Linked DNA regions of Homo sapiens. The protein of the gene in region 1 interacts with the protein of each later gene in a biochemical or structural test. Each region holds a gene or a part of one and is shown in the gene's direction. Other genes may lie near its edges.

Region 1 (3,500 bases):
AGTTAGGAGAATTAACCGAGCTCATGGATATAAAATGGTTAGCATTACATTTGGCCCATGGTGATTTCTCATTAAATATATACCAGAATTATGGTAATTTACTCCAACAAATATTTATTGAATGTTTTACAAGAGCCTTTACTCAGTGCTATCCAAGTCTGTTTTTACAGCTTACCAATCATTGCACGTACGAAGAAAAGGTATAGCTTAATTCCTTAGATCAGGATTTCTCAATCTCAGCCCTATTGACATTTTGGCAGATAATTCTTTGTTCTGTGAGGCTTCACTGTGCATTGTAGGAATTTAGCAGCATCCTTGGCCACCACATGCTAGATGCAGTAGCATCCCATTTATGACAACCAAAAATGCCTCCAGACATTGCCAAATGTCTCCTGAAGGGCAACATTGTCCCCAGTTGAGAACTACAGCCCTTGATCAATTCTATGTAAACAGTGTTCACGAACTGCTCATCTTAGGAGATTTTCCCCAAAAGATCCATGGTCAAATAAGATGAGAAACATCAAATGCCAGCAACAGCATAACAATGATAGCTAACTTTTGGAAACATACTAAACATGGCAAATTGTTCTTATCTTATTTAATCCTCATAACAGACCTAGAAGTTACTTACTATTTTAAGGCACATTTTTAAAATGAGGAAATTGAGGATCAGAGAAATCAAGTGACTGACAAACATCATACAATTAAATGGTACAGCTACGGTTTGCTTCCAAGCCATCTTCAGAGTCTGTGAAATTATCTACTACACAGTATTGCTCCTTGAATATACCACTTTCTAATTCAAAATCAATTTGGGGTCTTAAGGCTAATTATTCTTAATTTGTGATATTTATTAGGTACAGGTATTTATCTCCAGCACTTACAAAATCACCTTTTGTTTTATTCAATTGATGACAATATTCCAATTATTTGCTAAATGATTGTCTTCATAAACATCCTTGGATGCAGGCAAAGTCACTTTCCCTGGCAATGTTAACCAAAATAACTTCAAACAAATTCAGATGACCAGGAACTGTGGAGAGACTCACTCTGCTTGAGGGAGGCAGAAAACATTTAATAGAGGAGACAATATTTGAATTTGACCTTTTATCATCATATTAAATTTGGATGAATAAGAGTCTGCCAGGTGGAAGGGCATTCCTAGCAGAGTAAACGGCATGTGCAGAGACCTAGGTAACTTGGAGAGTTCAATATGTTTGAGGAATGGTGGGGGTGGAGAAAAGAAAACAGGAAAATAAAACTAGAGAGAAGGCTGAGTTCTGCATTATTATCTGTGGCTTGACTCCTGTAGGTATTTGCCCTTATCACCTTTGCAGTAAGGGCAGCAGACAGCCAAGAGCACAGCAGGGACATGGTCAGGTAGGTACTTGATGATCACCAAAGTGTATATGGTTTGATGGCAGGGAGACCCAATTAAGTCACTAATGCAATGCTTGCAGCAAGAGATAATGAGCTAGGGTGGAATGAAGGGTCAGATTTGAGAGAGTTTATTACAAGAGAAGCAGGGCAGGGAAAATCCTCCTCTGAAATGGGCTATTAGAGCAAATAGTATAATTTATTTTTGGAAAGGCTGTCTCTATGAAACAAAATAATGCATTTCCAAGGAAATAATCTGGAAGTACGTTTAGCAGCTGTTCAGGTAACCTGGAGAATTTGCAGTAACATATCTCAGATTCCATAAATGATCTTCTGGAAACTTGTTCCTGTCTCCATTCAGATTTCCCATAGAAATTGAACACCTCATAATTGTTAAGTGGAGATTCAGAGCTAAAAGTTAGATTCTGAATTGCACTGTTGCCTTTTTAGTACAGACTACTTTGTCAATTTCCTTCTAACCATGTCACCTGGGAAAGATGAGTCAGCGTTAGTGGAGATTCAACCAAATGTATTTGAGAAATTATGAGCCAGTCAAAAATGCAGGGAAGAGATTAGTCCCAGACACTCAACAAATAGTTGTTGAATGGGTGAATTAATCAAATGTTGGATTCACTTATTTAATTTTTGAGTTAAGCATGTAAAATAAGATTAATATAAAGGAAGAAAAAAACCTTTCAACCTTCGATTGCAGTTTTTCCCTTTCCTTTTTTACTGAAATAGCTAATGGATCACTCCCCAAAAATACTCTAGCCTAGTACCAAATGGACTTTTATTGCTATGCATTATGCAATAAATTTTTACGTATACTATTTAAATCCAAAATGAACATATAGTCCAACACATTTAACCTTGTTACTTTTTTCCAAACATCTTCCTCAAGGCATCCTTTAAGTTTTTTTTTTTCTGTACTTTAGTTTAAGCAATTTATTTTACCATAGATACAAAGATTTTATAATCCCATCCCTGGAAGTTTATAAGAAACAATTTTTTTCTACTACATTTTAATGATTTCTGTAATTGTATCTAAAATCACAATGAGTAATAATATCTGCTGTTTAAGGAGTGCTATCAGGTACATTCCCAAACATCAGACCTATGTTATTTTGCAATAGAGAATTTTTTTCCTACAGTGAAAATATAATTTTCTTTCTGCAATAAAAGAATTATTATTCTTCATGTTCTTACACATTCTTCTTTTTATGTGAACATTTTAGGTGTATCAATATATGCATGAAACGATAACTGTTAATGGCTGTCCCGAATTCCGTGCGAGGGCAACAGCAAAGGTAAGGCTTGAGTAACTTTAAAAATATACTTGACCCCAGTTATCTAGTAATTGATTGTGCGCGTGTGTGTTTCAGGTATTCTCGTGTGTACACTGTAAGAGAATTTAGACATCAGTGGCAGCCCAGAGTCTAGAACCAGTACTACTTCTCAGGTAAAAATCCTAATGGAAAATTGAACGTTTCTGCTGCTTCTGTAGCTTAAGAAAGGAGAATGATTTCATTAAACTCACTTAATGTCCATTTGGCACAAGCAAATCTACTGGTTCATTGTGTGAAATACTATATGATTTTCAGACACATTCTTCTGATCTGAAAGAACCTGTATCATATTCAGTGCATGAAGATTTATTTGCACCGGTCTAAAGATTTGATTTCAAATAGACAGGAAAAGAATTCACCTGACACCCACTGATCTAGGATACTTCTGTGTATTCAGCTGAGCAGTGGGTAACTTGCTGAAAGGATGTGGCATAGACCTTATAGAAAACGCCTGTCACCTTTTGTGGTAGTGACCACATCTGCCCTTTAAAGACTCAAATCCAGAGACTGTAGAGACCCTACTAATGGAAATGTTATACCGATAACATCAGGAAATTATCAGGAAAATAGGCCATTAGGAAATACCAATTTTAAACTAAAATCACTGATGCAGCTCTTCTTTTACAAACACACAAATGTTATAATAGAAACATGACTTGCTTTTAAAAATACTTTATTTTTCTAATAATGTATAAGAAATAACCATTGAAAATGAGTAGAATTTTCCATTTAATTATTTTGTGTTACATCAACGCTTGTTTAGTTTCTCTCTTGATT
Region 2 (2,355 bases), on another chromosome or scaffold:
ATTTCTCATCTAAAAACATCCCGGGGTGGGTGGTCTGGGACTGATCTGGTGGACCCAGGCTCCGCCTTGTTGCTTGACTGTTGGCAGCACCTGCTTACTTACCACTCATGGTGCAAGATGACACTTCAGCCTCCGCCAAAATGCTCACCTTCCAGCCAGCAGGAAGTCGGAAGGAGAAGAAAGGGGACAGAGCCCCATGGCGTCCATCCTTAGAGGATGCTGCCACCTGAACCTCTGCTTTCATCCTGTTGGTCAGAACCCAGTCACATGACCACACCCAGTGGCAACGGAGGCTGGGAAATATAGTCTTTATTTTGGGCACCCATGTGTCCAGCAAAACTGGGGGTTCCATCAGTCGGCAAGAATGGGAGAGTGGCCGATGCAGTGGCTGATGCTTGTATCCCAGCACTTTGGGAGGTCGAGGTGGGCAGATCACCTGAGGTCAGGAGTTCAAGACCAGCCTGGCCAATATGGTGAAACCCTGTCTCTACTAAAAATAAAAAAATTAGCTGGGTGTGCTGGCGCACCTGTAGTCCCAGCTACTTGGGAGGCTGAGGCAGGAGAATCGCTTGATCTTGAGAGGTGGAGGTTGCAGTGAGCCAAGATTGTGCCACTGCCTTCCAGCCTGGGAGACAGCAAAAAAAAAAAAAAAAAAAAAAAAAAAAAAAAAAAAGGGCCAGGCACGGTGGCTCACACCTGTAATCCCAGCACTTTGGGAGGCCGAGATGGGCGGATCACGAGGTCAGGAGATTGAGACCATCCTGGCTAACACGGTGAAACCCCATCTCTACTAAAAATACAAAAAAATTGGCCGGGCATGGTGGAGTAGTCCCAGCTACTCGGGAGGCTGAGGCAGGAGAATGGCGTGAACCTGGGAGGCAGAGCTTGCAGTGAGCCGAGATCGCGCCACTGCACTCCAGCCTGGGCGACAGAGCGAGACTCTTGTCTCAAAAAGAAAAAAAGAAAGAGAAATCTGCCTCCCAGCCTTGGGCTCCTGCCCTACCAGCCCACACCCCTGGTAGAGCCCCCTCTCCCACCAGCTCAAAGCCCAAGTTCCTTCACTGTGACCTTGTCTGCTCCTCTAAAACAGGCAACACCAGACAGTGAGAAGAGCCAGCCAGACATGGGCAGAAAACCTATTTCTGTGATCTACTGGCTGTGTGAGCAGGGGCTAGTTGCTCTCTCTGGGCCTCACTGAAGAGAAGGGTGGCACTATGCTAGGGCCGGCACGGTTGCAAGGTAGATGTAAGATGGGGTACAGGTGTTGTGGAGGGCAGAAATGCACCATCCGAAGGCTACATGTCCCCCACACTTATGTCTTGCTTGGCCCACACTGTTTCATTTTAAAATCAGTAGCAAACAATTTAAAAAATCAGAAGATTTGCCTGCATGATGCAGTGGCTCATGCCTGTAATCCCAGCACTTTGGGAGGCCAAGGTGGGAGGATTGCTTGAGCCCAGGAGTTCAAGACCAGCATGGGCACCATAGCAAGACCCCTGTTTCTACAAAAAAAAAAAAATTAGAAAATTAGCCAAGTGTGGTGGCATGCACCTGTGGTCCCAGCTACTTGGGAGGCAGAGGGAAAGTGAGATCTCCTGCTTTTTATTTCTTTATGTATAATGATAGGGTCTTGCTCTGTTGCCCAGGCTGGAGTGCAGTGGCATGATCACTGCTCACTGCAGCCTTGATCTCCTGGGCTCAGAGGATCCTCCCACCTCAGCCTCCCAAATAGCTAGGACTAGAGGTGCCCACCAGCATGCTCAGCAGATTTTTAAATCTTTTTGTAGAGATGAGGTTTTGCTATGTTGCCCAGGCTGGTCTCGAACTCCTGGCCTCGAGCGATCCTCCCACCTTGGCCTCCCAAAGCACTGGGATTACAGACGTGAGCCACTGCGCCCAGCAGATTTCTCTTTAACACCTAGATTTCAGCCTGAGCCAGGCAGGCATTCCTGAATGAACCAGTAGTACTGCTCCCAGAAGAAGAGGTCCTCCTCCGTGTGACACAGTCCCCACTTGGCCCTTGCAGGGATTGGATCTGGGATCCCTGGATTTAAACTCAGGGCCATCCTCATAACAGCCTCACAAGGCTGGGATTAGCTTCCCAGTTCACAAGGGAAGAAACCAAGACTTGAGAAGGTCAAGGTCTGGCCAGACCCACACATCTTGGACCCTCATACCGCCTCGAGGCCCCATGCTGCCCTCTGCCTGCTCCAGATGTGAATACTGCTGGCCCTGGCTGGCCCCGGCTGGCCCCGAGGGTCCTAGGGATGAACAGCCCAGCCCAGGGAGAGCTCAGCCCCTTGTGCCTCTGCCCCTTCCCACCTCCTGCGGAGGCCAGTCGACTCACCCACAAAG

Evidence for each region. The genes of interacting proteins can lie anywhere in the genome.
Region 2: the proteins of LIN7A (region 1) and PDLIM7 interact in a test that uses a peptide from one of them, tested with the Homo sapiens proteins (one large-scale study listed by IntAct).

Annotation. Positions count from the first base shown.
Region 1 is NC_000012.12:80,847,435-80,850,934, reverse strand, and holds part of LIN7A (protein lin-7 homolog A), read left to right. Parts: intron 1-2,612; coding exon 2,613-2,684; intron 2,685-2,759; exon of another isoform or gene 2,760-2,836; intron 2,837-3,500. UniProt on the Homo sapiens protein: Plays a role in establishing and maintaining the asymmetric distribution of channels and receptors at the plasma membrane of polarized cells.
Region 2 is NC_000005.10:177,485,250-177,487,604, reverse strand, and holds part of PDLIM7 (PDZ and LIM domain protein 7), read left to right. Parts: intron 1-2,355. UniProt on the Homo sapiens protein: May function as a scaffold on which the coordinated assembly of proteins can occur. May play a role as an adapter that, via its PDZ domain, localizes LIM-binding proteins to actin filaments of both skeletal muscle and nonmuscle tissues.